Linked DNA regions of Homo sapiens: region 1 is linked to region 2. The links come from fine-mapping of genetic effects on gene expression. Tissue or cell type: whole blood. Region 2 holds a variant in brackets; the other region holds the start of a gene. All regions are shown on one strand. Distances are between the middles of the regions. Region 1 holds the start of ADIPOR2 (adiponectin receptor 2). Region 2 has its middle 8.1 kb from the start of MIR3649.

Region 1 (15,963 bases), 23 kb after region 2:
TTAGAGACAGGGTTTCGACATGTTGGCCAGGCTGGTCTCAAACTCCTGACCTTAAGTGATCCGCCCGCCTCTGCCTCTCAAAGTGAGCCACTGTGCCTGGCCCCAATTCTCTTTTAAAAGTGTTCGGCTTGCTTTCCTAGATGGGCAACTGACAGCACTTATGTTGCATCTCTAGCAGCATTTCTTTGAGCTCTTTTACTCTTTTTCTGTTTTCCTCTTTCTCCCCTATCCTCTTTTGTTTTACGCTTGTCTTGGGCCTGCCCGCAATACCTCAGGTGTGGCTAGACTTGGCTGACGACATCCAAGGCATATGAGATTATTAGAGAAAGTTTGAGGGGAAGGAGTAAGACTTTTGATAGTCTGGATTTTTCATTAAGAATTTTATTTTTGCTATAGCCTGCTTTTCCTACCCAGTTTTGCTTTTGCTTCTAATCTAAACCAAAAGAAAAGGAAAAAAAAATTTTGAGAAACAAAGTTATGAGAACAATCTCAACCCCTACCTCAGTGATTATTTAGTCACAATCATTGGAATTCAATTCCAGATCAGTTCTTCTTCCTCCACCGTAAATGCCTGCCAGTCCTTGCAACTTATTTCTGCAAATTGTCACTTCACCAGATTGTGACCTCAAGGGCTCAGGGATTCATCCTGTATAACTTGATGAAAGTATTTATATCAAACTATCCTGACTAAACCTGGTCCTGAGTTCTGAGTTTAGCTATACATCATTGAGATATTGCAAGGTTAATAAACCTCTTTAGATTATGGATTTAAAATTTTAGCACAACAAATAAAATGCTCTTTTTTTGGCTTACAGTTCTGTGTGTGTGGGTGAGCGCATAAGCAGTCACTGAGTAGAACAGATGCTGTCTTGAATTTTTTCTTAATAAAAAGATGACAGATTTTTAATTACTGGGTGCTTCTAAATTACTTAAGAAATGACATTTTTCTTTATTGTTTTCACCTGTATTTCCTGTTGTTCCGTAGTTGTAGCTTCTAATACGCATCTTTATTACTCTCTATTTTTAAGGTAATGAAAACTTTGTGTTTCTATTTTCATTCTCACAGCAAAGGAGAGATTAAATGGAAACAACCCTTTATAACTTTGAAATATTATGTAATCCTGGCATTCTTAAAAGAATTTTTTGCTTGCCTTTTACTTTGGCAAAATACTTGTATCTAAAGATATATAAAGAACACTGATGGCCAGGCATGGTGACTCACGTCTGTAATCCAAGCACTTTGGGAGGCCGAGGCAGGCAGATCGCTTGAGGTCAGAAGTTCGAGACCAGCATGGTCAACATGGTGAAACCCTGTCTCTACTAAAAATACAAAAATTAGCCTGGTGTGGTGGCACACACCTGCGATTCCAGCTATTTGGGAGGCTGAGGTATAAGAATTGCTTGAACCCAGGAAGCGGAGGTTGCGGTGAGGAGAGATTGCACCACTGCACTCCAGCTTGGGTGAAAAAGTGAGACTCTGTCTCAAAAAAAAAAAAAAAAAAAAGAACACTTATGGCTCAATAATAAGAGGGAAAACAGCCCATTTTAAAAAATAGGTAAAAAGTTTGAACAGACACATCACAAAAGAAAATATAAGAAAGGCCAATAAACACATGAAAAGTCTCAACATCATTAACAATCAGAAAAAGGCAAATTAAAACCACAATGAGATAACACTGACATACCCACTAGAATAGCTAAAATAAAAAATTTGACAATACTAAGGGTTAGCAAGGATGTGGAACAACTGGAAATCTCATATATTGCTGGTGAGGGTGTAAAATGGGGAAACAATTTGGCAGTTTCTCATAAAGTTAAACATAAATTTATATGATTTTGCTAATTCACCCCCTTATCAAAAGTAAATGAAAACACATGTCCTCTAAAGATTTGTACATAAATGTTCACAATACCTTTATTTATAACAATCAGGGACTAGACGTTGGGCACAGTGGCTCACATTTGTAATCCCAGCACTTTCGGAGGCCAACATGGGAGGATCGCTTGAGGCCAAGAGTTTGAGGACAGCCTGGGCAATTTAGCAAGACCCTGTCTTTACAAAAAATAATAAAATTAGCGAGGCATGGTGGCACATGCCTGTAGTCCCTGCTACTTGGGAGGCTGATATAGGAGGATTGTTTGTGCTCAGGAGATCAAGGCTGCAGTGAGGTACGACTGCATCACTGCGCTCCATCCTGGGTGACAGAGTGAGACCCTGTCTCACAAAACAACAACAACAAAAACAAGAAATTACCCAATCATTCATCAATAGGTGAATGGATAAACAAATGGAATACTACCTAGCAACGGAAAGTGACGAACTATGATGAATGCAATAGCATGAATGAAACTCAAAAACCCCATGCTGAGAGAAAGTCGACAGAGCAAAAGAGTACATATCGCACGATTCCATTAATGGGAAATTCTAGAAGAGGCAAAAGCATTCTATAGTGGCAGAAAGAATATCAGTGGTTGCTTGGAGCCAGGCTTGGGAGAGGAAATACTGACTCCAAATAGGCACAGGGGGATTGCGGGGGGTGTTGGAGATGTTGTATATTTTGACTGAGGTTATGCTTCCACGGGAGTATACATTTTTCAAACCTCATTTGAACTGTACACTTAAAAAGAGGGTGCATTTTATATAAAATATACTTCAATAAAGTTGTTTTTCTCAACTACTAAAAAAGTTCAGAGAAGCCTCTAATATATGTCCATGTACATACCACCTAGGATTCATAAATGTTAAATGTTTTGTTACTTGCTTCATCTTTTTCATATAGAAGAAATGAAATATTACAGATAAAGATGATCTCTCCATAGCTCCCAGGCTTATTCTTCACCCCTTCCCACCGGCAAGTACATTCCTAAAGTTGTATTTATCCTTTCTGTCCATCTAAAACATGTATTCACCGACATCTTCATTTTATTGATGAAGGTATCAAAGCTTAACAAGAGCTAATGCATAAGCCATAGATAAACAATGCCTTTGTCAGCAGCACAGCCAGTAATGATGTTCTATCTTAAGTTCAATCTGCAGGACTATGTTATCTAATCTGCGTTTGAGGAGCTGCGAATGTAATTTATGTAATTATTGGAGTGTTTATACTGGTCTTTCTCTTCAGTTTTTTTTTTTGTTTTGTTTTGTTTTTTTTTTTTTTTTTTGGAGACGGAGTCTCACTCTGTCGCCCAGGCTGGAGTGCAGTGGCGCCATCTCTGCTCACTGCAAGCTCCGCCTCCCGGGTTCACACCATTCTCCTGCCTCAGCCTCCCAAGTAGCTGGGACTACAGGCGCCTGCCACCACGCCTGGCTAATTTTTTTGTATTTTTAGTAGAGATGGGGTTTCACTGTGTTAGCCAGGATGGTCTCGATCTCCTGACCTCATGATCCGCCCGCCTCGGCCTCCCAAAGTGCTGGGATTACAGGTGTGAGCCATGGCGCCCGGCCCTGATTAATGTAGTTTTAAACAACATAACAATTTGATATCAGTGATTCGTTTAATTGCAATTAAGATGGAATACAGATATTTATGTATTTCCCTCTAATTTTCTCAAGTAGATTACTAGACTATTTGCAAAGCATCTAACACCACTGAATCCTAAATAGCTGGCTGGATTTCACTGTTCTATGGACACTATATGAGACAACCAGAGGGACTGATGTGACGACATTCCTTGCCCTTTCTTTTGATTTATCTTTTTTATGGTGTATCTTCTATGTTGTCCAGATTTCCCCCTCAGTTCTAATGTTTATATTTTGAAAGCTGATAAATATTGGAGCTGAAAAGAAGAGTTTAGGCTAGAATTAAGTATTTTGTAATAACGAAGCTGTTAATTTCCCTTTGTAATTTTTTTTTTTTAAACTCACAGACACAGGTCTCTGAAAGAACACTCTAATTCTGGTTTTCACTGGCGAAGTAATTTGTCTTTTTTCCTTCTTAAAAATAGATACGATTCTGATAAGAAAAATGATAGCTTGTCTTTTCTCTATAAGAGAAGCAATATAAACCAGTTTCAAACTCAAGTTTAAATTTGCACTGGGATCTAGGGTATTTTTTCTTTCAGAATTTGAAAGTTGGCTCGGTACAATGGCTCACACCTATAATCCCAGCACTTTGGGAGGTAGGAGGATTGCTTGAGCCCAGGAGTTTGAGACCAGCCTGGGCAACATAGTGAGACTCTCTTTTTATGAAAAAAAAAAAAAATTTAAAGCTGAACGTTCATTTGCTTTTAGCTTTAGATACATATTCTTCTTCTTCTTTTTTTTTTTTTTTTTAGAGATGGGGTCTCACTCTGTTGCCCAGGCTGGAGTGCAGTGGTGCCATCATAGCTCACTGCAGCCTGGAACTCCTGAGCCCAGTGATCCTCCAGCCTTGGCCTCTGGAGTAGCTGGGACTACAGGTGCGCACTACCATGCCTTAGATACATATGCGAATCTCATTGGCTATTGCCTTGGATATCACAATGGAGTTTAACTCTGTCCATCATGTCAGCAATATACTATAGTGTCACTGGAGCCACAACTGGATTATGGATGTGACTCACCTAGTGATGCGCCATCCTTTTCAATAACATCTGATAATTGCAGAGATGACTACATCAGACTAGTTGAGCCACAGGGTACTGTTGGGTCACTGGTGACTGGCATGTGGGATAGGGGTGGAAGGGAATCTTTTTTTGGTGCTGCAGAAGATAAAGGGCTCTACCCTCCTGTGGAGTAGTGTGATACCCCAAGAATGGAGAGAACAGAAATTCTAAGATACGCAGCTGATGCTGGAGGTTAGAGAATTTTACTGAGTTTTTCTTGTTTTTTGGACAGCTAATCAGAAGACAATATATAAAGTTTAGTAACTGAAGTATGGTCAGGGAGAGGGCCTGAAAATTCTGCTTTGGAATATTTAATGGTGACATTTAGATAAGGGTTAAGGGTGAAGCCAGCCTTATGGATGTGGGGATCAGGGGAATGTTCCTCAGGTGCTCAGGTCAGGGACAGTGGCAACATCCTCAATAGTTAAGGAGGTGTGGGTATTTTGAGGAAATGATGTGGTTTGTTTCATCACTATATAAGCATCAGGAACTGGCAGTAGTGATATGTGAATGGGATCAAGGTAACCGAGAACAAGATGTGAAACTTTAGGGAAATGGTAAGTCTGTCTTTCATCTGGTTCAGCACACGGTGAACTGTTCCAGAGGTAGCTTCTTAAAGCCCTTCGTTTTGTCAAACCAGAATCTTTTTTTTTTTTTTTTTTGAGACAGAGTCTTGCTCTGTCACACAGGCTGGAGTGCAGTGGCACGGTCTCAGCTCACTGCAACCTCTGCCTCTCAGGTTCAAGTGATTCTCCTGCCTCAGCCTCCAGAGTACCTGGGATTACAGGCACGCGCGACCATGCTTGGCTAATTTTTTGTATTTTTGTAGAGACGGGGTTTCGCCATGTTGGCCAGGCTGGTTTTGAACTCCTGACCTCAAGTGATCTGCCCATCTCGGCCTCCCAAAGTGCTAGGATTACAGGTGTGAGCCACCACGCTTGGCCTGGAAACCAGTCTTTAAGAGAAAGGGATGCAGGAAAGATTGGAGATCTTTGAAGAATCTCTTTTTAAGAAAATTATCTTTTTCGCTCTAGTTCTGTCACCTTTAGTAGACTCTTTATTAAGCCTAAGAATCTTATACTTCTTATCTCTGTTCTATGTGAGTTGGTATAACGGGTCAAATTCACAATCCAGAAATGCCTGTATTGTTTCTGATGTGCTGAGGAGGTGTACAATTGTCTTCCTTGATTTCAACCTCAAAAGCTTTACATCTTTACCTGGGAACATAGAAGTCATTATTATTATGTCTTTCACAAATTATGTAAACTTAAAAAAATTATATTTTCAATGTAAACCACTCCTTGGAGGAAATTAGTTCCTTTAACATTTATTTCCTAATTTTAATTTCTACTAGTTTTATCTCTTTCAAGCTTAAATGAGTGGGCCTTAGTTCTGTATTATTGCCATCTTAATCATGTTCTTTGTGATTTTAGTAGCTTTACTTTTTAAAACTTACATTTCCATAATGAAGACTTCTGTATTTTTGTTTTTTTCGTCATATATCCGACTCCAGCTCCCTCAAGACCTGTCAGCTTTTCCCTGCACCCTTTGTTATCTCTTGCTGTGGTCCAAAGGTAAGGACAGTAAGCCGTGGGCACAGACTTTCCCTAAATCGTATGGATTTCCTTTAGTCAATAACAAGAATTTTGATAGTTAAGGCATTTACGCCTTAAGAATGTGATAAATTCCCCCTCCTACTGAATGTAAAGAACTATTTTTCTACGCAGACTAACTCTTATATTCACTTTTCTTATAGAATAAGTACGTAACCAAATCTGTTCTTGGCTTCTAAGAAGTTAGAACTCAACGTAAAGATGACTTGTGGAAAATTACTTACTCATTCTGGGTAAATGGACGCAGGTATTTAGTGCTTAAGTAGGTTCTGATATACCATTACATTAACATCATTTTAAAAATCGCTCTGAATTATATGTATTTTAAGAGTGACTGGGTTTTAAAAAAAATAGAAGTGGTAGAGCATAAATCATAATCTTTAATAAGGTAATAAAAGGCAAACACTATTGCTCTGGGCAAAACTGGGCTAATGCTTTTGGATTTCTTTCCGCAGTCTTCACAGACGACGCTCAGCATCCTATCAGCCCTTGGCAGAGACACACGATCCAGCCTAAATCCTCAAATTCTGGCTCTTGCCCAAAGTGTGTAGCCAGTATCCATAGAGACTGCGAAAAGCATCCGCGAGCCGGGGCGGCCCCCTCCTCCTCAGCTCCAAATTGCTTCCTTTTTCGGTGGGAGAAAAAACTCCGAGGAGTTGTGTGAGCGCCTAAGGAGCGCACGCTCCTCCGGCCCTCAACACCCAGTATAGTTTTCGCTAAGTTCCTGGCCGAACCACAGCTCCCACGATGCACCCAGGTTTTAGAGCGGTCAGAGGGGCGGCTTCCGGTTTAGGACAGCGCGGCTGCGCACGGCGTGTGGTCTTATTGGCTCGAACCGCCTCGTGCGATGCGCGTCACGGCGACGTGCGGTCGTGGGGGCGGGGAGACGCGGCGGCGGCGGTCGCTGTCGCGGCGGCGAGAGCGCGATTCCAGAAGCGGCATCGCGGCGGCGGCAGCGGCGGCGGCTACACCGGGCTTGGCCCCCTCCCTCCTCCGTTCCCCCCTCCTCCCCCCTCCCCTCAGCGGTGGCTCCCAAGAAGTCCGAGACACGCGGTGAGGCGGCGACGGGCTCCGGGTGAGGGTCTCTGGAGTGTGGGCGCCGTTTCCTGGGCGCAGAGGGAGAGCTTGGGGTCGGGGGGAGGTGAGAGCTGAGGGGCGAATGTCCCTGGCGCGGGCGGGAGAGCGCGCTCTCGGCCCGGCCCGCAACTTGATTCCTAACTCTGACCTGCCGCCCGGCGCGCCTTGGCCTGAGGGTCGGCCGTGTGGGGACCTGGAGCCGCCCTCCTTGCGACCGCTGTCGGAGGAGTCCGGCGCCCGCTGTTCCCCTCGCCTCGCCTTTCGCGGCGGAGGGTCGGAGCCTGCTGCCCTCTGCTCACCTTCGGGTGCAGTTGCTCCAGCTCCCTGCCCGCGGAGAGGATCTGCCCGCCCCTCTTCGTCTCTTGTCTGTTTTTATCACTTCTAGGAATTTGTTTGGTGGAGGCTTGGGATGGGCTCTCTCAGCGCTACTTTCACAGTGACTGGGGTGGGGAAGAGTTCCCTCACCTTTTTCAGGTGGCGCGTCAGGCAGCCTGCTTGGTACCTGGAGTCCTGTTTTCCCAAGCCCCCGTCCGTCAGTGTTCGCTTCTTCTAAAATTACCGATGACAGGGTTATAAATCAGTTTTTAGGGGGCTCGGAGAGAGTTTGGGTTGGAAACTGTTAGCTCTTTTTTCCTCCTGGCTTTTGATCTTGATTTAAGCGTTTGCCTCTGAAATTTTGACAACTTCATAAGATGGTCCAAAAGTGAATTTTGGTAGAAAGATTTAAATGCACAGTTGGGATTTTATGGGGGTACGGTGACTTCATTGCAGGTTGTTGACTTTTTTTTTAAAATAAGATGTTCTTTTAATTTTTTGACTCTGGGTTTCTGAGCCTTGGTTATTGTCCCCCATTTCTGTTCCAAAAGCAGACTTTTTTTTTTTTTATCACCCCTTCCCCTCACCCAGAGAATCCCTTTAAACGCCAAGAAAGCTGTCATAACATTTAGCATTATTTGATCACAGAACTTTTCCAAATGAAATGCTAAAAATTCCTTCAGAAAAAAGCATCCATCTACCCATAGCATTATTTTTTGGGGGGAGGCTATACGTCTTGTCAGTTCTGAAAGTTTGAAGTGACCTCTTATCAAAGGCCACCCTTATGTCTCCTTAAACGACTCTTAGGTAATTCCTAGATGTTTTCATCCGTTCTGATAAATTTGTTGTCAGAGTGTTGATTGTGATGATCTGCAACTAAAATTATTTCATCAGTAAAGATTTCCACACATGTGGCAGCTGCTTGTTGGTGAATTATGAAATTTGAAAAAATTGCAAATTAAATGTGAAAGGCATATTTCTTTTAACTTCTGATTGTAACTGTCTGTCCTCCAGTATACGTTCCTATCTAGACTTTGGTCTGCTTAGCAGATTTCCTCTTTTCACTTGACACTAGGAATGGGAGTAGGATTTCCAGAGCCTAAAAGAGAGTTTGTTTTTTTTTTCTATCCCTAGGCTCCTTGTATGAATTTATAAATAAATGGTTTTTTCTATCAATAGTATCAATTTAGCTGGTGCACTTTTTTTTTTTAGTATAAATCACATTTTGTTTCCTAAAATGAAAATAATTTTGTTTTATTCTTTATTTCAGGGATTGACAGATTTTAAAGCCTGCAGGCCCAGTCCTGCCAGTTGCCTCTTTTTGTAAATAAAGATTTGATTAGGCCTGGTGCGATCGCTCACGCTGGTAATCCCAGCACTTTGGGAGGTCGAGGCGGGCAGATAACCTGAGATCAGGAGTTTGAGACCAGCTTGGCCAACATGGTGAAACCCCGTCCCTATTAAAACTACAAAAATTAGCCGGGTGTGGTGGCGCACTCTTGTTATCCCAGCTGCCCGGGAGGCTGAGGCAGGAGAATCGTTTAAACCCGGGAGGTAGAGGTTGCAGTGAGCCAAGATTGCACCATTGCACTCCAGTCTGGACAACAAGAGCGAAACTCCGTCTTAAAAAAAAGAGGAAGAAAAAAGTTTTTATTAGAACATAGCCATATGCAGTCGTTTAGGTATTGTCTGTAGTTTCTTTTGGGGTACAGCAGCAGAGTTGAGTAGTTGTGCCAGAGAGCCATGTGGCCTGTAACACCTTATATTTATTTACTATGTGGACCTTAATATAAAAAGTTTGCCGAGCTCCATTAAAAATGATACATAGTCAATGTTGAAAATTTAAATGAGTCAGAAAATTGTAAAGGAGAAAGTAAAAGTTATTTACAAGTACACCACTTGGGGCTTTTTTTCTGTGATTATAGAATTTGTTGGTGATTATTTTTTATATAAATGAACTCAAATTGATAAATGTTGGTTTGTAATCTGCTTTTTTTTTTTTTTGTTCATTTTGTTTTTTGAGACGGAGTTTCGTTCTTGTTGCCCAGGCTGGAGTGCAATGGCACGATCTTGGCTCACTGCAACCTCTGCCTCCTGGGTTCAAGCAATTCTCCTGCCTCAGCCTCCCTAGTAGCTGGGATTACAGGTGTGCGCCACCAAGCCCGGCCAATTTTTTTTTTGTATTTTTAGTAGAGACGGGGTTTCACCATGTTGGCCAGGCTGGTCTCGAACTCCTCATGTGATCCACCTGCCTCACCCCTCAAAGTGCTGGGATTACAGGTGTGAGCAACCGTGCCCAGCCCTGTAATCTGCTTTTTTAAGAAGTATTTCATTATTTGTATTTGGATTTTGATTGCTTTTGTATTTTCTGCATTGGAGGTCTTTCTAGAAAGGGGCTTATGAACCGGGTTTTCATGATTAGTCTTACCAGTCAAGATTTAAAAAGAAAATCCAGGAATAATAAATGCTTGGTAATGAAGATGCTGGTTAACATTTATTGAGCACTTACTATGTACTAGACAATTTCCACTACTTTACGTGTATGAAATTATTTAATTGCTGTGGCAGCTCTGTGAGTGTATACTATGATTTCTGTTTTACAGGTGAGGAAACTAAGGCAAGGAGAAAAATTAAGTAACTGTTGGAAGTTTATCAGCTAGCAAATGGTGGAGCTAGGATTTGATTTCATGCAGTCTGATTTGAGAAACCCAAATTCTTAACAATATGCTACAGAGCCTCTACTTACATTATTGCTCAGTGTAGAAAGTTTAGACAGTCCAGAGATATACTGTCATCCCTTGGTGTCTGTAGGGACTGCTTCTAGGACCTTTGGTGAATATCAAGATGCACAGATGCTCAAATCTCTGATATAAATGGCATAGTATTTGCATATAACCTGTGCATATCCTCCCAAATACTTTATATCATTTCTAGATTACTTATAATACCTAATAGAATATAAATGCTATGTAAATAGTTGTTATACTGTATTGTTTGGGGAATAAAGACAAGAAAAAAAAGTCTGCATGTTTCAAATACAGATGCTATATTAAACTTTTTGGATCCAAGCTTGGTTGAATCCACAGACATAAGAGCCCATGGATATGGAGGGCCAACTGTATAATGTAAAAAAATTCCTTCTCATGCGCTAGTTTCCAGTTTTCATCCTTTGTAGATAACCAGGGGCAACAGTTTGATATAGGTCTTTTCACCTCTCTTTGTGTGCATATACAAGTAATTATTTGCAGATTTGTCTGCATATTCAGAATTTAAAAATTACACTTTTTTTTAGCAGCTTTAGATGTACAGAAATTTGAGCCGATAGCACAGAAAGTTCCCATATTCCCTTCCCTTCCCTCGTTTCTCCTATTGCAAACATCTTGCATTAATTTGGCACATTTATTGCATTTGATGAGCCCATATCAATATGTTGTTATTTATTGGTCTATAGTTTACATAGGGCTTATTCTTTGTGTTGCAGTTTTTTTTTTTTTTTTGTTTTGTTTTTTTAAGATCTCACTCTGTATCTCAGGCTGGAGTGCACTGGTGCCGTCATGGCTCTGCAGCCTCGACCTCCCGGGCTCAAGCGATCCTCCCACCTTAGCCTCCCAAAGTGTTAGGGTTACAGACATGAGCCACTGCACTTGGCCGAGAGTTATTTTTTACAAAAATGGGATCAAGCCCAGTGGTGGCTTGCGCCTGTAGTTCCAGCTACTTGGGAGGTTGAGGTGGGAGGATTGCTTGAGGCTAGGAGTTTGAGACCAGTCTGGGCAACACAGCATGACTCTGACCAGTCTGGGCAACACAGCATGACTCTGTCTCTTAAAAAAAAAAAAAAGTGGGCTGAGGGTGGTGGCTAACGTCGGTAATCCTTGCACTTTGGGAGGCCAAGGCAGGTGGATCACCTGAGGTCAGGAGTTCGGGACCAGCCTGGCCAACATGAATGAAACCCCCTCTCTACCAAAAATATATTAAAAAAAAAATTATCTGGGTATGGTGGCGCGCGCCTGTAATCCCAACTACTCAGGAGGCTGAGGCAGGAGAATCGCTTGAAACTGGGAGGTGGAGGTTGCAGTGAACCGAGATTGCACCACTGCGCTCTAGCCTGGGCAACAGGAGCAAAACTCCATCTCAAAAAAAAAAAAAAAAAATGACGAAACCCGTCATTCAGCAGTCATTCACCTTTTTTGGTGGTTTTCAGGATATAGTGCTTTTGGACTTTCTAATGTAAACATTCTTGATTTACTAATTTTCAGATTAATGACAATTTATTTTGGGAATGGAAGGCTGGCTTGGATGTTACTTTTTCTCTCTTTTTATTTTTCTATTTTTTTTTTTAAGTGTATCTCATAGTGGCAGCAGCTTTTCCCCAAAGGAATGCTTATTTTTTTTGACGGGACATTCTGGCTATACCTAATCATCAAAGTTCTTCTTTTTTCTCTTTATCTCTGGATTTGGAAAATGATTCATTTTGGTTTTCTTCCTCATAAATTCTTTTTGGTCTGTCCAGCCATTGCAGTTGCTAGTCATGTCTCCTTGTCAGACTTTGGCTTTTTATGACTGTCATCAATGTTAGAAAAAATTACTTGCTCCTTATCACTATTTCAATACATTTCCTCTTGGGCTTTCCCTGGGGGCAGCACTGAATTTTTTCCTTAGTTGAGCCATGCAGATTTTCTAGAAGTCATCGTTTAGTTTGGCTTTTCACTCCTCCATGGGTGCTGTTCAGCTTCTAGGAGATTTCTTGCAGTTTCTACTTGTCAACAGATTCACCAGCAGCACCCTCCTCCTCACTGAGACTGGTGCTTCCCCACCCATCTTTATCATTTTCAGCCTTCTCTTTTTCTTTCTCTTTTCTTTTTTCCTTCTTTTTTTTTTTTTTGGTTACAGCGTCTTACTCTGTTGCCCAGACTGGAGTGCAGTGGTGCAATCGTAGCTTACTGCAACCTCCGCTTCATGGGCTCAAGTGATCCTCCCACTTCAGCTTCCCAAGTAGCCGGGATTACAGGCATGCACCACCATGCCTGGCTAATGTTTGTATTTTTTGTAGAAACAGGGTTTTGCCATGTTGTCCAGGCTGGTCTTGAACTCCTGGCCTCGAGCGATCCTCCTCCCTCAGCCTCTTGAATAGCTGGATTTAACAGGCAGGAGCCATTGTCCCTGGCCATATTCTTGCACTGTTGATTTTACTGGGGCCTCTGTCAGCTTACCCTGGAATTCTGCATCATCTGAGGATTTGGAAGAACTGAATCACAGTTATAGTAGACAGCATCATATTCTTATCCTTGTGTGTTTTATACTGGGACAGGTCTTGAGGAAGTTCTTCTGTCATGGCTAGGGGACATTGAGCTATTACCTCTTATAGCACTGATTTGGACTGTCATGTCTTCCCTAAAGTTCTTGTCCATAACATAATGGATGGTCACAGTCATGAGCAATAACTGAGTGATCTCTGGGACTAACAGGTGATGAAATGCATGTTTAGCAAACAGTGATTTCTGTTACTTCTCTGTGGTGCAGCAGCAGAAACTTTTGCCCAAAGGCATAGAAGTTAGAGGGCTTATGAATTTCTGCCAATCTGGAGATAAGATTTATGAGCATCATGTTAACTCAAACCTCTGCTTAGAGATTTCTAGCTGTGTGCTTCAGGAGTGTTTTGGTAAAACTTTGAGGATCATGAATAAAGCTAATAGCTTAAAAGTTAAACACTGTGAGTTTTTTCTTCTTTTGTTTCCTGGGCACTTTTCATAACCTTTTCAGTGTTTTGTGTTTGGAGCCACTCTTCCCAGTGACATACTGCACTTGTAGGTCTCTTGTCACTTTATCCTCAGATTCTGAGTCTGTCCTATTTGTTTCTCTTCTTCATCTTATCCTAGGAAGAATGTCAAGGTGGCAACCAATATCTCAAAACATGCAGTTGTGATGACATTGACAGTTTTGGCATCAGTCCGGATGTTTCTTGTAGAGTTCAGTCATCACATCCAAAGATATCTTGGCTGCAGTTACATTGCTGTCTCTTAACACGATGTATATGAAATTCTGCAGTACTATATCCACTTTATTCTTGTGTTTTACAGTTATATTCTTGCTATCAGTCACAACATGAGTATGTAAAGTCTCAAAAGCTTATTATGGCAACTTGGAAGTTCAAAAAAGAGCTCTAGCAAACTTGATGGATGGATATGATACTTCTCAGCAAGATCAAAGCTTTGTAAAATGTTATTAGATGATTTTGATTCAAGACAGTACAGTATAATTGTAGGAAAGTAGATCTTTTAGCTCTTGAGGAAAGTTACTTAGATGTTCTGGGTAACAGTGACCAATCTGTGCCATAAATATCACCAGCTCTGTCAATTCTTTGCCAGGTTTATTGGTTTTAATTTGAGAATCTCCATATTGGATTTGTAGTGTATATAGTACTGCTGTAGTAACCCTTTAATGTCAGCCAGTGGCTCCACTTTATTAGATTCTATAACTGCTGCTTGTTACTGGGCAGCTAGTTTCTGCAGGACATGTTGGCTGTAGACTGGATCCACAGTGAGTAGTTCTCAGAGAACCCGTACTGCTGACATTTGCAAACCCATTTCAGCTGTGGTGTGGAGCTGTGGCGTTGTACTTCTGGATGTGACCAGAAACAGTGTTTGGGAGCTCAGCAGGTGGTGCTGTCTTGGCTGATTGTGTGTGTGTGTGTGTGTGTGTGTGTGTGTGTATTTTATTTAATTTCTGAGACAGGGTCTTGCTCTGTCACCCAGGCTGGAGTGCCATGGCACAATCACGGCTCACTGCCCTCTCGAACTCAAACAGTCCTCCCAACTGAGACTCCCACGTAGCTGGGACTATAGATGCACGCCAGGCTAATTTTTGCATTTTTAATGGAGACGAGGTTTTGCCATGTTGCCCAGGCCGGCCTTGAACTCCTGGACTCAAGTGATCCTCTTTGCCTTAGCTTCTCAAAGTGCTGGGATTATAGGCTTGAGCCACCATGACAGGCCCTGTGTGTGTGTTTTTAAAATTAATATTTGTGGCTTACTTTACATCTGCATCTACTCTCTTCTTTTTAGTAGTTCTCTAGTGTAGTATTATTAAATGGATATGCTATAACTTAATACTGCTCTTACTGATGGATATTTAGATTATATAAATGGATTGTAAATTGCCCATACATTTTATGTATATTTATTGCAAGCTAATTCCCCTTTAGTAATTTTGTAATAGTTGAAGAAAACACATTTTTCATTTTGATGTGTGTTATCACATTGCCACCCAGAAAGGTCACAGCAATGTAAACTCTCACCAGAAATGTGGGTGGAGTCTAGCTTCTCTGTGTCATTACAAATTAAAAAAAAAAATCTTTGTTTATCTGATAGGAGGTTAAGCATTTGCAGTATATTCTATCTAACTGGGAGATATGCTTTGTTTCAATAGCATTCTTTTAAAGTTGATTTACGATTACTTCAGGTGGAGCATGCATTCTGTTCCCGGGCCTCCCTTAGGTGGAGCTGCTTCACCTATTTACATTCTCTGCTTGGCTCTTGAAAGCATATGGTTTTGTTATCACTGATCAAAAAGAATCTGGGTGCCTGCCTAATAGACTATATATTTCTTGAGGGTAAGGAACGTGTAACTTTCTTGATAATCTACTGGCAGTTCCGGTATATAGCAGGTGGTAAGTAAATGGTCTTTTAAAAATCTAAATTGGTTCATGAACCAGTAACTGTTGGGGTTACTGCTGAGTGAAGTGCTTTAATTTTGTTAAAAATAATATTTTCAAATTGTGAAATACAAACTTGAAAAACTGCAGTGCATGCTGGGTGCGGTCGCTCAGGCCTGTAATCCCAGCACTTTGGGACGCCAAGGTGGGCGGATCACCTGAGGTTGGGAGTTTGAGACCAGCCTGGCCAACATGGCGAAACCCCCGTCTCTACTGAAAATACTAAAACAAAACAAAACAAAAAAAACCAAAAACAAAAATTAGCCAGGCATCATGGCCACTGCCTGTAATCCCTGCTACTTGGGAGACCGAGGCAGGATAATCACTTGAACCCGGGAGGCAGAGGTTGCGGTGAGCCGAGATAGCACCATTGCACTCCAGCCTGGGCAACAAGAGCGAAACTCCGTCTTAAAAAGAAAAGAAAAACTTCATTATAAAATTGTCACTTTGGCATATGTTGTCTCTCATCTTTCAACTCTAAGATAAGTTAAATAGGACGAACTGATATCTTAGGACCTGTTAGGAAATAATTAGCCTATTTTATAAGTACATTTGGTATTTAGAAATTGGAAGTTGAGGAATTTATTAAAAAGGGGATTTGTTTAACATTACTTATGGTTTTGAGTTTTCTGGATTGGAGTATACCATGTGTTAGAAGGGGAT
Region 2 (15,963 bases):
CACTGCTTGGGTAACACCTTCAGATAGTATCCAGGCCAAAACATGTTAAGAAAAAAAATTCACTCACAGCCAGAACACTTATTCCTGTTTATCTTTTAACAATGCAAGGGTAGGGAAATTGTTTGGAAATCAAAACGTGGAAGTTCGTTCATCCTCCCAACTCGTGGAGTTCTAAGGCAGAGACTGGCTAAGCTTTTGTGGGACCTAAAAGTTATATAATCAGGGTGGGGCAGTTTAAATAATTACAAATACGGAATTATGAACAGGGCCTTAGAAGGCGAGGGAGAGGCCCTGAAACTTGAGCTTCATTCACTTAATGGAAAATCTAACTCTGATTCTAGGGGAAGAATCTAGAAGATTCCATGAAAATACAATGTTATAGAGCTTTAAATGACTTTCCCTAAAATACTTTTAATACTTCTTGCCTTAGTGGATCCTGGCTTTTCTTTGACAGTGTCATTCAGTTGAAAACCCTCTGGGTAAAGGCTCTTCGCCTCCTGGCAGCCCCATGCGGGCGGGAGGTGCTGCTCTCAGGGTCTTCACACCCCACTGTTGCAGCCCTCCGCCCACCCGTCTCTCCAGCCGGACCATCCTCTCTGCATTTTGGTCCCTGTCCTCCGCCCACCCGTCTCTCCAGCCGGACCATCCTCTCTGCATTTTGGTCCCTGTCCTCCGCCCACCCGTCTCTCCAGCCGGACCATCCTCTCTGCATTTTGGTCCCTGTCCTCCGCCCACCCGTCTCTCCAGCCGGACCATCCTCTCTGCATTTTGGTCCCTGTCCTCCGCCCACCCGTCTCTCCAGCCGGACCATCCTCTCTGCATTTTGGTCCCTGTCCTCCGCCCACCCGTCTCTCCAGCCGGACCATCCTCTCTGCATTTTGGTCCCTGTCCTCCGCCCACCCGTCTCTCCAGCCGGACCATCCTCTCTGCATTTTGGTCCCTGTCCTCCGCCCACCCGTCTCTCCAGCCGGACCATCCTCTCTGCATTTTGGTCCCTGTCCTCCGCCCACCCTGGGGCCCTTCTGCAAAGCACTGAGGTTCGGGGCGCATGGACGTCTTCCTCCCAGCCCCTCATCCGCCAGCGAGCTGAGCCGCGCCCGGGCCCCTGTCACCGCGCCACCGCTCCTTCGGGACCTGAAGCCTCCGTGCTCAGCGATCCCCCTGCAGCCCACTGCGACCCCCACCCTTGCTGCGCCCTCCGCCTCAGCACGGCCCTCCCGGAGCTATGTGCCCTCCCTGACTTCCTCTTCGCCCCTCCCCTGCCTGGCTCTCCCACTGCCAGTCACCCCAACCCCGCCCCAGCAGCAGCCTCGAGTTCCCTCTCCCCTCGAAGGCCTCGCGGCGGACTCGGAGCGGGGCAGGGAGGAGGCGGGAGGCGGCGGGGGGCGGGGGGCGGGGGGAGGCGGGAGGCGGCGGGAGGCGGGGGGCGGGGCCGCAGCTCCGCCCTCGGGAAATGGCTCCGCCTCCCTCGCCGGGAGCTGCCTTCAGGGGCCGTATGCAGCGACTCCCCACCCCGCGGGCCATGCCAGCGGACGGGCACCTCCGCGGGCGCAGAGCGAGTCACACGTGCATCCTCTCGCCCTTCCCCCGCTGCACCGCCCGCTGTCCAGCCCTCTCCTGTTTTCTCCCACTGCAGAGCTGGCTAAAGAACACTGCAGACTTGGGCCAATTTGCCCCTGCCCAGATTCCTGATTCCCGGCCTCGCGGCCCCACCGCTGTCTTCCTCTCCCCTCCCGGACTTCCTGTCGCCCCCAGCCCCAGCCCTCTGTGGCCGCGGCCTGCTCTGCCTGAGCTGCGCCTCCGGAGGTTCCGCCGCCCCTTCGCCTCCCCCTCCCCACTTCCCGCCTCCCCCCTCACTTCCCGCCTCCCCCTCCCCACTTCCCGCCTCCCCCCTCACTTCCCGCCTCCCCCTCCCCACTTCCCGCCTCCCCCTCCCCACTTCCCGCCTCCCCCTCCTCACTTCCCGCCTCCCCCTCCTCACTTCCCGCCTCCCCCTCCCCACTTCCCGCCTCCCCCTCCCCACTTCCCGCCTCCCCCTCCCCACTTCCCGCCTCCCCCCTCACTTCCCGCCTCCCCCTCCCCACTTCCCGCCTCCCCCTCACTTCCCGCCTCCTCCTCCCCACTTCCCGCCTCCCCCTCCTCACTTCCCGCCTCCCCCTCCTCACTTCCCGCCTCCCCCTCCTCACTTCCCGCCTCCCCCTCCCCACTTCCCGCCTCCCCCTCCTCACTTCCCGCCTCCCCCTCCTCACTTCCCGCCTCCCTCCTGAGAGGTCCGCTGTCGGGAGAGAGGACTCGGTGTGTGCTCCGCTCGCCCTCCGCGAGATTCCCTCAGGGCACAAGCAGCGCTTCCTGAAGCTCGGTTAGCCCCTCACCCACCAGCTGCAAGGACGGGGACCCTGCCTTTCTTATCGCGCATCGCCCAGGCCCTGGCCGGGAGGAGGGCCTCTAACCGGGAGGGGCTGCCCGCTCTTCCGTGCCCCGCCCCGCAGCGCACCTGCCCGCGAACATGAGGCAGCCGGGGGTCCGCTGGGGCAGAGTGCGGAGTGAAGGGGTGCACTGGGCACTCAGCGCGGCCCTTGGGAGGCAGGGCCGCCCCAGCCTGCCCTCCTGTCTGGGAAGGCCGTCCAGAAGCAGGAGCCCCGGGGAAAACAACTGGCTGGACGGGGCGGCCTTCAGTGTCTCTCCCAGCCTGAGAGTCGCTTCCCACCACCTGGGCACGAACCTGCTCTGCGATCTCCGGCAAGTTCCTGCGCCTCCTGTCGGTAAAATGCAGATCGTGGCGTCTTCCCTGTCCCCTGTGAGGATCGTGAGCCTATGCGTGTGAGGCCACCAAATCCCAATTCGTATGAACGTGCTGGAAGCAAGGGGGTCAGAGCACTTAGCGGCTCTCTCCTCTGGTGGGGAGAAAACAATGATTTTCTTAAGGACACAGTTTGATGGCGGAGGCTCGAGAGCGGCTACAGTTGGGGCCACTGGAGAGAGAGATGGCCTCTGGAAGAGGGTGCTGAGTTATGTAGTGGCCGATTCACTGCAGGCTGCCTGCTAGATTGTAGGCTTGCTGAAGGCAGCACCAGTTATCTGTCGCACTGTTCGCTACAGAATTGTCCGCACCAAGCACAGCATGGACTCTGTTAGCAGTGCAGCAAACATTTGATGAAGGAAGGAAGGAGGGAATTAAAGGAGGAAGAAAGGAAAGGAGAAAGATAAAAAAGGAAGAAAGGAGGAAGGGAAGGAAGGAAGAAAGGAAGGATGGAGGGAAGGAGGGAAGGAAGGAAGGAGGAAAACAGGAGGGAAGGAGGGAAAGGAGGGAAGGAGGAAAACAGGAGGGAAGGAGGGAAGGAAGGAAGGAGGAAAACAGGAGGGAAGGAAGGGGGAAAGGAAGGGAGGAAGGAAGGAAGGAGGCTGCTTAGGGGTAAAACGTCTGTAGGGAGGATGCAGCCGGGCCACGAGCTAATAGAAGGTGCAGAATGTCAAGCTGCTGAGATGGACCATGGAAGGCAAGAAGAATGAGGGAATGCCCACCCAGTCCTCAATGACAAATAATGATCTTGTTTTCTTTTGCTTTTTCCTCGATCTTAATTTTTAATCCCCAATGGCTGAATGATGGTGTTCTGTGCAGACATTTGTGTTCGGGTAGAGAGAAGGGGAAAGAATGGCTGGGACTGGCCCACCATGGCCTTGGGACTGGCCCACTATGGCCCTGCCCTTACAAACTAGAGGAGAGTAATTAAATGAAAACGATGACAAGGATGTACATGTAAAACATTTAAAGGCTGGGCACAGTGGCTCACGCCTGTAATCCCAGCACTTCCGGAGGCCAAGGCAGGTGGGTCACGAGGTCAGCAGTTCGAGACCAGGCTGGTCAACATGGTGAAACCCCATCTCTACTAAAAATACAAAAATTATCCAGGCGTGGTGGTGGGCACCTGTAATCCCAGCTACTTGGGAGGCTGAGGCAGGAGAATCTCTTGACCCGGGAGGCGGAGTTTGCAGTGAGTCGAGACCATGCCATTGCACTCCAGCCTGGGTGACAGTGGGAGACTCTGTCTCAAAAAACAAACAAACAGCAACAACAAAAAACATTTAAAGACACACAAGGCCGGGCGCAGTGGCTCTTGCCTGTAATCCTAGCACTTTGGGAGGCTGAGGCAGGAGGATCGCTTGAGCCCAGGAATTTGAGACCAGCCTGGGCAACATGGTGTAAACGTGTCTCTAAAAAACATAGAAAAATTAGCTGGGCGTGGTGGTGCGCACCTGTGGTCTCAGCTACTCAGGAGGCTGAGGTGGGAGGATCACTTGAGCCCGGGAGGTCGAGGCTGCAGTGAGCTATGATCTCACCACCGTACTCCAGTCTGGGTAACGGAGCAAGACCCTGTTTCAAAAATAAATGAATGAAATAATAAAAATTAAGAACACACAAAAGTAGATTCAAAATATTACACACACTTTTACACCTGTACCTCTCTCTCCATCTTTGTGTATTGGAATGCATGAGTCCACACTGATAATCTCCAAGTCCAGGCCGACAGCATGAGTGCATTCTTGTTTTCTCCCTTTCCCTTCTCTGCCAGTAAGAAACCCGGCTCCACAGGGAGTGAAAAGAATGAAAAAGCAGCAGTAGGTCACTAAGGTCCCAGCTTCCCTGTGCCAGCCCTGCCATGGTGCCTCCAAGGATGCAGACCTGCCTGGGGCAGAGGTCTTTAAGGAGACCAAATTGGAACCAGAAGTTTCTTCAGACTGAAAGAACTCCAGGAAGTGTCAGTGGTTAGGGCAGATTTAGGATACCCTATAAATATACAGTAGGGCAAAGTTAAGTCAAGGGCCCCTGGAGCCTTCGGGGTTATGTTGAACCTCCAGGGTTCACCTGGATTAACTCTGTGGTGGCTTCCAGCTGTTGATCTCACCCTAGACCCAGGAATCTGAGGTATGATTTGAGTTAGAAATGGGAAGTAGGGGAGAAATGAAGAAAATTAGAAGAAAACAGTAAATGTATCACCACTTAAAAACATTAGTATTGATAAAATTGACTTCATAAAAATTAAAAATTTCCATGTGGCAAAAATAGCTGAGTCATAAGTAATTAACTGGGAAAATATTTGCAACACATATGACAGTTAATTTTCTTCACATGCAAAGTACACTTAAGAGTGAATAAGATAATCAGCCCCAAAGAAAAATGGGCAAAAGACCTTAAAAAACCGCAGAAGAAGAAATATATCTGGCTTTCTTTTTTTTTTTTCGAGACAGAGTTTTTGCTCTTGTTGCCCAGGCTGGAGTGCAATGGCATGATCTCAGCTCACTGCAACCTCCGCCTCCCAGGTTCAAGTGATTCTCCTGCCTCAGCCTCCCAAGTAGCTGGGATTACAGACATGTGCCACGACGCCTGGCTAATCTTGTATTTTTAGTAGAGACGGGGTTTCTCCATGTTGGTCAGGCTGGTCTCGAACTCCCGACCTCAGATGATCCACCCACCTCGGCCTCCCAAAGTGCTGGGATTACAGGCATGAGCCACCACCCCCGGCCTGCCTGGCTTTCAAACACATGAGAAGGTGCTTACCCTCACTTATAATAAAAGAAATAATTCTATTATATTTCTAATACATTACCAATACATGGTTTCCAATACATAAATTCAAAGTATAAGAGGTATTTTTTATGTATTAGATGAATAAAAATTAAAAATTTTGATAAATTTGTATGTGAAAGAAGATGTGAAGAAATAGGTGTTCCATGCATTATTGGTGGAAGTAAAAATTGGTGCCCTTTCTTTGAAACTATCAAATGCACATATCTTTTGATCCAGTAAGCCCGCCTCTACAAAATTATCCTACAGATACACTCACGCATGTGCACAAAGATATCGGCACAAGAAATTTCCTGCGGCATTATTTGAGGAGCAAAGTCTAAAAGAACCTGAATGCCTGCCAGTAGGGGGAAGGGATATTAAAAATGATTATTGTGCAAAATGATGCTATATATTGTTCACAGATGTATATATGTATGTATATGACATATAAAAAATTACAGAAAGGGTGTAAATAATTTCCAGTAGCGCTCCCCTCTAAGGATGGGAGGAAGGATGCAGGACTGACCACAAAGGCCACAGAATATTTCAGACTTCATCTGTAGCATTTTACTTATTTTTATGTAAAAAAAGAAAAAAAACAGCTATACTAAATGTTTTTTATCAATTCTGGTTGGTGGAGACTTCATTTATTACACTCTTATTTTTATGTATTTTTTCCAAAAAGCATGATACAGGGGGGTGGGTATAAGATGATATCTTTTGTGTAAAAAGAGGCCCCCTGAGCTTGTTTATGTGTAAATGTCCCTAGAAAGACAGTCAAGGTCACAGTGGCTGGTGTGGCAAAAGGCAACAAGGAAGTGGGTGGGGAGACTGGTTTTTCATTGCACGTTCTTACTGCTTATATATTTTGCCATTTGAATGTTCTGCTTACAAAGAATGATTATAAAAACAAGCAAACAGAAGGCATGCCTCCTGTGCCTGAGAGGACGGGAAGGGGAAAGAAAAGGCTGCTTTCCCTTCTCTGAAGCCTTTGCCTGAGGCCAGTGGGTAAATACTGATGCTGAGAGGAGGGAGGAGAGAAAGGCAGAGAGAGACAGAGACAGAGATGGAGACACACACACACAGAGAGACAGAGACACACAGAGATGGAAACAGGGAGAGAGAGAGACAGAGACGGACAGAGACAGAGGCAGAGAGAGACAGACAGAGACAGAGAGTCCCCTGAGAGGCTGGTCTGCTTTGGAAATATTCATGGTTTGCCCAGAGGAGCAAGCAATGTGGGCCAAGCTAAGAGCCTTGAGAGCTATTAACACACCAAGTAGGTAGTGACCCAGGCAGGAAAAAACACTAAGAAATGTCCAGTGTGGGCCAGGCGTGGTGGCTCATGCCTGTACTCCCAGCACTTTGGGAGGTTGAGGAGGGAGCATCGCTTGAGGCCAGGAGCTCACGACCAGGCTGGGCAACAAAGTGAGACCCCCATCTCTCCCAAGAAGTAAAAAAAAAATTAGCCAGATATGGTGGTGCATGCCTGTAGTCCCAGATACTTGGGAGGGT[G/A]AGGCAGGAAGATCACTTGAGCCTGGGAGGTTGAGGCCGCAGTGAGCCATGATTGCGCCAGTGCACTCCAGCCTGGGCAACAGAGGGAGGTTCCATCTCAAAAAGAAAAAAATATATATCCAGTGTGGCCAAGATATTTTAGGGTGAGGAGAAGGATCAGGAAGCCTCCTGGCCAGACTTTCAGCCTGCAATCCTATCCTCAGTATCTGAGACTACCAAATCCTCAACAAGAAACAAAAACTGAGGGTCCAAACGATGAAAAACAAACCGTAAAGAACGAATTACCCACGTGAATAAACTTTGAAGGCGTTGCGCTAAGGGAAATGAGCTAGTCACAAAGGACGACTACTCTCTCTACGATTCCACTCATATGAGGTACTACGAATAGTCAAATTCAGAGACAGCAGAACGGTGGCCACCAGTGGCTGGCAGGGCAGGATGGGGCGTTAGTGTTCAATGGGGACAGAGTTTCAGTTGGGAAAGAAAGAAAGTTTCTGTAGATGAATGGTGGTGATGGTGGCACAAAAATGTGAGTGCACTTAATGGCACAGAACTGTTCACTTGAGCATTTTAAAATTGTTATTTTTTTAGAGACAGGTTCTTGCTCTGTCACACAGGCTGGAGGGCAGCGGTGTGATCAGAGCTCACTATAGCATTGAACTCCTAGGCTCAAGTGATCTTCCTGCCTCGGCCTCCCAAGGAGCTGGAACTACTTGCCCAGTGTGCCACGATGCCCAGATAATTAAAAAAAAAAAAACCTTTTATTTTTATTTTTATTTTTTTAGAGATGAAGTTGCTATGTTGGCCAAGCTGGTTTCAAACTCCTGGCCTCCAATGATCCTCCCATCTCAGCCTCCCAAAGCTTGGGATTACAGGTGTCAGCCACTGTGCCCAGGCCTACTTAAAAATCGTTAAAATAGTATATGTTATTTTATACATATTTTACCACAATTTTAAAAATAAAAGAGTTACCCTCCCAGTTGACTGACAATCCTGGTATGCCTAAAACCTTTCACTAGACATTTAACCAGTCTTACTACCTCCTCCTGATCTTCAACTAAACCCTCCTCTGTCTTTTTCCTGTAAATTTTCTGCCAACACTGTGAAATACAACTTTGATACACACTTACATATGTTTTAAAAACACCTAATAACAACAACAGAACTAAACTAAAAATAACAGACAACTCCCATGTGCTGGAGGCAGTGAATCTCAGGTTTCCTTCACACAAAGCGGAAATGGCCAGTAAACCCACTTTGTTTCCCCACTGGCCAAGGGAGAAAAGCCGCACTGCAGACACCCACCCGACCCTTCGACCTCCAGACAGACACAGTGCTTTCTAACAAAACAAAAACAAACGAAAAACAACCCAACGGCTTAAAACCACAAAAGAAACCTTTACCCAATCCAAGCGACCCCTTGCTTCCGTTTGGGCAGATGGCATTTCACCACTTTTTGACCTTTCAACCAGTACCCTTGCTGAATTTCTTTCCAAAGCCAGAGTCATAATACGTGAGAGCGAGCATTTCTCAAGTGCTGGGCTTCAGGGAGGGCCCTGGTCTTTGGACGGTGAACAGAACTGGGGCAGAGGGAGTCCTATCTCGAGGAGATGACGCTGCTGCCCTACAGTAGCCAGCGCTGCTTTTGTAACTCTAGCGATGGCCCAATCTCTGATTGCCCCCACTCTGATCAGCCCTCTTTATTTTAGTCTCGCCTTTGAAATAAGTCTGGGTGACAGCCAAGATGTCCAGTGGCCAAGTCATGCTATGCCACTTCTACCAATGAGATGGTCCCTCCAGCCTCAGCCAGCAGAGACTGTCCTCTGGACCTAGAGCCCCACGAGTGGTGCCACGAGAGCAGCACCTGGGGCCCCACGACCTGGAAGTGTAATTAGTTTCAGACTCAGATAGAGAAATGGAAAGTCCTGATATTGATTGGAAAGCCTAGTTATAATATTCCTAATCTGGCTTGATCCTTGTCTAAAAAGACCTTTTATTTTAGTTGTAGCTTATTTGCCTGGCAAACAGGAGCTCTGGTTTAGGGAGGAGGAATGGGAATGGGGAGAAGTAGGCTATTATAATAATTGAGTACAATTTGAATCCTTTACACATTATGGCTTTTTCGTTTTTTTTTGTTTTTGAGATAGTCTCGCTCTGTCACCCAGGCAGGAGTGTAATGGTGTGATCTTGGCTCACTGCAACCTCCACCTCCTGGGCTCAAGCGATTCTCCTGCCTCAGCCTCCTGATCAGCTGGGACTACAGGCACCTGCCACCATGCCAGGCTATTTTTTTTGTATTTTTAGTAGAGACAGGGTTTCACTATATTGGCCAGGCTGGTCTCAAACTCCTGACCTCATGATCCACCCGTGTCGGCCTCCCAAAGTGCTGGGATTACAGGCGTGAGCCACCGCAATCGGCCCCACATTATGTTTTTAATCACCCTCAAATAGATGCTAATAAGTTGTCAGAAACATCATGAGCTGTTGCTGGGATACAGCCCTTTCACAGCCCAAAGAGCCCCTTGACACATCTTGTTTTTTTCTGGTGAAAAAATAAGAGGACTCATTTTAGTTAGACTCATTCACAAAAACCAGGCGGGCTCATTCTAGAGTCATATGGCCTCCAAAAGCTCAGACCAGAAGCGTACTGTGCTCCTGTCACACTCTAATCTGACTCTCTTTCTGGAAGAATTTGGAGAGGTGAGTGCCAATATCATATTACTTTCTCAGGCTGAGAATTTGAGGGTGGAGTCCGGCAGGCTCCTGAGGGAAAGAGAATAAACCAGGAGGAAAGGGGAGCTCGAGCTCGGCCCTTTGGTTTTCCTTGGAGGCCTTGCTTGGGGGCCAAAGGTTCTTGGCCTGCGTCCTCCCCTCCTTCTCCCTGGGCACTCAGTAGCAGAGTGCCAGCCTCGCTTCCACTGCAGGCAACCCCACACTGCCCCTCGGGCATCCTCTCCCCCTCACTCACTCACAGCTCATTCGAAAAGGCTTTACTCACCAACTTTAAGTTAATTGCTTCAACTAAATTACACCTTTTTTTCATATGAAGTCGCAGATGTGTTCCCAGATGGTGCCTGGCCTGGTGTTCTGAGTCATGGGTCTACAGAGGCCGCCACACCTTGACACCTGGTGAAAGGTCGCCACAGTGCCCTCGCTTGTGATTAGCCCTTTGTAAGTGCAGTGCTCATTTTACCCTGTGGTTCTGAACAAGCAGGAATGACTGAATCCTGAAGTTGAAGTAGCGTAGCTTTTCCCTGAGATTCAGATGTGTTTACTTTTACACCTTTAAAAAAAAACAACTTTATCAATACAGCTTCACAGACATCACTGCTCCCGCCGTTGCTTTTTCTAGCTTTTAAGGCTGGACATATACCAAGCAAGCTCCCCATCACCACCAGGCCCTTGCCCAGGTCCACAACAGGGATCAGAAACTTCAGCCTAAGCCCCACTGCTGTGGCTCAGGTGCCATCAACAAGTCTTACCAAAGCAGGAACTTTTCTAAGCTTCTAGAATGTAGTTGTCATACCTTGACTAGCTGTCATCAACTCCCTCCCCACGGAATAGTAGCTCTGCATACCTGCTGAGATCCTGCCATAAATGGTCAGGCCACCAGCAATTACACTGTTGCCACACCCTGACTTTTTTTTTTTTTTGAGATGGAGTCTTGCTCAAGGAACTTAGTACTTCATACACCACCACCCTATCTAACATGCTATTTTGCAGTGATACTTCATATCTTTACATATCCATCATCAATGTAACATACAGTTATACAGCGAATGCATGTTTAGATTTATTTAAAGCTTTATTAGTTTCTTTGCTCACCATTGCTTTCCATTTTTTGGAGGGATCACTCTTTTTTTTTTCTTTTGTGTGCATGTGTATGTGTATGAGAAACAGATCATACATGAAAAATAAATGAAAAACTATGCACATATCGCAGTATTGGTGGATGAATACTATGATGTCTGAGATACATCTCAGAATAATCTGGGAGGGGAGAAAGTGAGTGACGGTGGAGATAAAATAAAATTGGTTGTGTACTAATAATTATTTAATAATTATTAAAGTTGTGGCTGGGTGCAGTGGTTCACACCTGTAATCCCAGTACTCTGGGAGGCTGAGGCAGGTGGACTGTTTGAGCCCAGGAGCTGGAGACCAGCCTGGGCAACATGGCAAAACCCTGTCTCTACTAAAACTACAAAAATTAGCTGAACGTGGTGGTGTGGGCCTGTAATCCCAGCTACTTGGGAGGCTGAGGTGGGAGGATTGCTTCAGCCCTGGGGGCGGAGGTTGCAGTGGGCCAAGTCTGTGCACTGCACTCCAGCCTGGGCGACAGAGCAAGACCCAGTCTAAAAAGAAAAAAAAAGAAAAATTGAATTTGTGTACTGATACTTATTTAATAATTATTAAAGCTGTGGGCCGGGTGCGGTGGTTCACGCCTGTAATCCTAGCACTTTGGGAGGCCGAGACGGACGTATCACGAGGTCAGGAGATCGAGACCATCTTGGCTAACACGGTGAAACGCCGTTTCTACTAAAAATACAAAAAATTAGCCGGGCGTGTTGGCGGGCGCCTGTAGTCCCAGCTACTCGGGAGGCTGAGGCAGGAGAATGGCGTGAACCTGGAAGGTGGAGCTTGCAGTGAGCTGAGATCGCGCCACTGCACTCCAACCTGGGGGACACAGCGAGACTCCGTCTCAAAAAAAAAAAACAAAAAAAAGCTGTGTACTAATAACTATTAAAGCTGGAGTATAGATACAGGGAGCTAGCTCTATTTTTGTATGTGTTTGACATTTTTGTATGTGTTTGTGTTTGAAATTTTGTATGTGTTTGAAATTTTACATGTTAAAGGATATAGAAAAAAGTAAAAGGTCCTGGGGCTCAATGTTCACCCTGCAGCTGACGAGTTGTGTCACTTTTTTTTTTTTTTTTGAGATGGAGTCTTGCTCTGTCACCCAGGCTGGAGTGTAATGGCGTGATCTCAGCTCACTGCAACCTCCGCCTCCCGGGTTCAAGTGATTCTCCTGCCTCAGCCTCCGGAGTAGCTGGGATTACAGGTGTGCACCACCACGCCCAGCTGATTTTTGTATTTTTAGTAGAGAAAGGGTTTCACCATGTTGTCCAGGATAGTCTCCATCTCTTGACCTCAACTGATCTGCCCGCCTTGGCCTCCCAAAGTGCTGGGATTACAGGTGTGAGCCACCGCGCCAGGCCCGAGCTGTGTCACTTTTTATAAGTCACTTCCTTCCTCTGCACCTTGGTTTCTTTCTCTCTAAAATAATGCAGTTTGACTAGACAATCATTTAAGATCCCTTCCTGCTTTGACAGGGTGAGATATCATTAATCTTTTGTGTTGTTTCTGTTATTTTGTTTTTTACTAAGATAAAATTTACATCCCATATAATTTGCCTTTTTTTTTTCTTTTTTTTTTTGAGATGGGGTCTCACTCTGTCGCCCAGGCTGGAGTGCAGTGGCACAGTCTCAGCTCACAGCAACCTCTACCTCCCAGGTTCAAGCGATTCTCCTGCCTCAGCCTCCTGAGTAGCTGGGATTACAGGCGCCTGCCCCAACGCCTGGCTAATTTTTGTATTTTTAGTAGAGACGGGGTTTCACCATGTTGGCCAAGCTGGTCTTGAACTCCTGACCTCAAGTGATTTGCCTGCCTCGGCCTCCCAAAGTGCTAGGATTACAGGCGTGAGCCACTGTGCCCAGCTGTGAAGTGGTATCTTGTTGTGATTTTGACTTTCATTTCCCTAATGACTAATGATATTGGACATTTTTCATGCCCTCTTATAGATCTTCTTTGAAGAAAAGTCTATTCAAATCTTTTGCCCATTTTTAGATTGAGTTATTTATTTATTTATTTATTTATTTTGAGACAGAGTCTCAGTCTGTCTTCCAGGCTGGAGTGCAGTGGTACAATCTCAGCTCACTGCAACCTCTGCCTCCCAGGTTCAAGTGATTCTCCTGCCTCAGCCTCCCAAGTAGCTGAGACTGCAGGTGCCTGCCAGTATGCCTGGCTAATTTTTATATTTTTGTAGAGATGGGGTTTCACCATGTTGGCCAGGCTGGTCTTGAACTCCTGACCTGTGACCCGCCCTCCTCAGCCTCCCAAAGTAATGGGATTACAGGTGTGAGCCACCACACCCAGCCGAGTTATTTATCTTTTTATTGTTGAGGTATAGGAGCTCTTTATATATTCTAGATATAAAACCCTTATTAAATACATGATTTGTAAATATTTTCTCCCATTTTGGGTTGTTTTTTCGCTTTCTTGATACATAACAGCCTTTACTTTTGGTGAAACCTAATTTATCTAATTATCCTTGGTTGCTTGCATTTTAGATATTATACCTAAGAAATGATTGCCTATTCCAATATCACAAATATTTACCCCTATATTTTCTTCTAAGAATTTTTATAGTTTTTGCTCTTACATTTAGGTCTTTGATCATTTGAGTTTATTTTTGTATATAGTGTGAAGGTGTGAATTTAGGGGGTCTAAATTCACTATTTTGCATATGTATATCTGTTGTCCAAGCACCATTTGTTGAAAAGACTGACCTTTCCCCACTGAACGGTCTTGCCACTCTTGTCAGAGATTGACCATGGATGTATCAGCTTACATCTGGACTCTCCATTCTGTTGCATTGAAATATACATGTTTATTTTTATGTCACTACCACACTGTCTTCATTAGTGTAGCTTTAAAGTAAGTTTTGAAATTGGGAAGTGTGAGCCCTCTAACTTTTATCTTCTTTTTCAAGATTGTTTTGGTTATTCTGGGTCCTTGCTTTTCCATGTGAGTTTCAGGATCACTTTGTCTATTTCTGCAAAAAAAAAAAGTAGTTGGAATTCATGAATCTTTAATTCACACCAAACTCCTCACTACAATGTCCTCTATGAGAACTAGCACGTTGTCTAACTTGGTCATTGTTGTATCTCCAACACCTAGCACAGGCCTGACCTAGAGTAAGCTCTTAATATTTAATGAATGAATGGCAAGAAAAAAAAGCACAGTTTAGAGAATAGCAATAAAATGTACCCAAAGGAACATTACCATACCTCAGAAGCCACCTGCATGCCACTCCATGATGAACTTCTCCATCATTTCTGTTTTTTTGAGACAGAGTCTCACTCTGTCACCCAGGCTGGAGTGCAGGGGCGTGATCTCGGCTCACTGCAACCTCTGCTTCCCAGGTTCAAGCAATTCTCCCACCTCAGCCTCCTGAGTAGCTGGGACTACAGGCTCACACCAGCACACCCGGCTAATTTTTGTATTTTTAGTAGAATCGGGGTTTCGCCATTTGGCCAGGCTGGTCTTGAACTCCTTATCTCAGGTGATCCACCTGCCTCGGTCTCCCAAAGTGCTGGGATTACAGGCGTGAGCCACCGCGCCTGGATCCCTCCATCATTTCTTTGCTTTTAAAAAAATAACAAACTGTGGCCAAGCAGAGGCAGGTGGATCACCTGAGGTCAGGAGTTCGCCACCAACCTGACCAACATGCTAAAACCCCGCCTATACTAAAAATACAAAATTAGCCAGGCGTGGTGGCACATGCCTGTAATCCCAGCTACTCGGGAGGCTGAGGCAGGAGAATTGTTTGAACCCGGGGCGGGGGCGGAGGCTGCAGTGAGCCAAGATCACATCACCACACTCCAGCCTGAGTGACAAAGCAAGACTCCGTGTCAAAAAATAAATAAATAGGCCGGCATGGTGGCTCAGGCCTGTAATCCCAGCACTTTAGGAGGCCGAGGCGGACGGATCATGACGTCAGGAGATTGAGACCATCCTGGCTAACATGTGAAACCCTGTCTCTACTAAAAATACAAAAAATTAGCTGGGCATGGTGGTGGGCACCTGTAGTCCCAGCTACTTGGGAGGCTGAGGCAGGAGAATAGCGTGAACCCAGAAGGTGGAGGTTGCAGTGAGCCGACATCACACCACCACACTCCACCAGCCTGGGCGACACAGCAAGACTCTGTCTCAAAAAATAAAAATAAAAATAAAATAAAATAAATAAATCAATAGCACCTTATTTATTTATTTGGGTTATTTCCAGGCTTTTGCTATAATAAATCATGATGTTGTTACATATTTCCTTATGTCCCTCATACAGGAGGTTCTATGCCTAGCAGTGGAATTCTGGGGTCTTAGGATATGCACGTATTCAACTATACCTGGTAATCCAAACCTTGCTCCAAAGTGGGTATACAAATTTACATTTCCACCCAAAGTAGGTGAGAATTATTACCATTGTTCTTTCCTTCTGGGTTCAGTTTTCTTCTTCTGCAAGTATACACTTTAGCTGTTTTTTTTGTTTTTTTTTTTTCAGAGAGGAACCGAATGTTAAACTCTCCTGGTCTTTGTTTTATTGAAAATGTCTTTATTTTATTGAAAACATCTTTATTTTGTTTGCACTCTTGAGTGAGAACTTCTATGAATATAGAATTCTAGATTGATAATGTTTTTGTTTTTTTCTCAATACTTTGAAAATACTATTCCATTATCTTTGGGCCTTTATTGTTGGATTTAATTGTAGTTCTTTTGTCTTCTGTCTCTGGTAGCTTCTAAGATTTTTGTCTGTGGTGCCTGCAATTTCACCATGATACGTCTAGGTGTAAATTTCTTCTTGTTTATTGGTTTGGCACTTGTCATGATTTCTGAGTCTGAGGATTCATATCTTTCATCAATTCTCGGAATTTTTTTTTAATTCTGGGAAATTATCAGTGATGATCTCTTGAATATTTATGATCCTCCGTTCTCTCCCTTTTCTCCTTCTGGATTACCTATGAGTGTTACAGTAGACATATTATCCTCCTTGCTTCCAAATCTCTCTCTCTTTTTTTTTTCCCTAGACAGAGTCTTGCTCTGTCACC

The links. PIP is the estimated chance that this variant, and not a neighbour inherited with it, causes the effect.
Region 1: ADIPOR2 starts here. The variant in region 2 is fine-mapped to the expression of ADIPOR2 in whole blood (TOPMed, PIP above 0.99).

Annotation. Positions count from the first base shown.
Region 1 is chr12:1,683,942-1,699,904 of GRCh38, forward strand. It overlaps ADIPOR2 (adiponectin receptor 2), which reads left to right and starts at 7,129. Exons shown (of 8, transcript NM_024551.3): 1 at 7,129-7,250. It also overlaps the pseudogene LOC100533654. RefSeq lists enhancers at 6,632-6,791, 6,812-6,861, 6,945-7,523 and silencers at 7,022-7,321, 7,342-7,431.
Region 2 is chr12:1,660,496-1,676,458 of GRCh38, forward strand. No RefSeq gene overlaps it. Among named protein-coding and RNA genes, the nearest start is that of MIR3649, 8.1 kb to the left of the region's middle. RefSeq lists silencers at 1,379-1,478, 1,569-1,658 and an enhancer at 8,619-8,668. The variant G/A (reference allele first, on the strand shown) is at 7,082.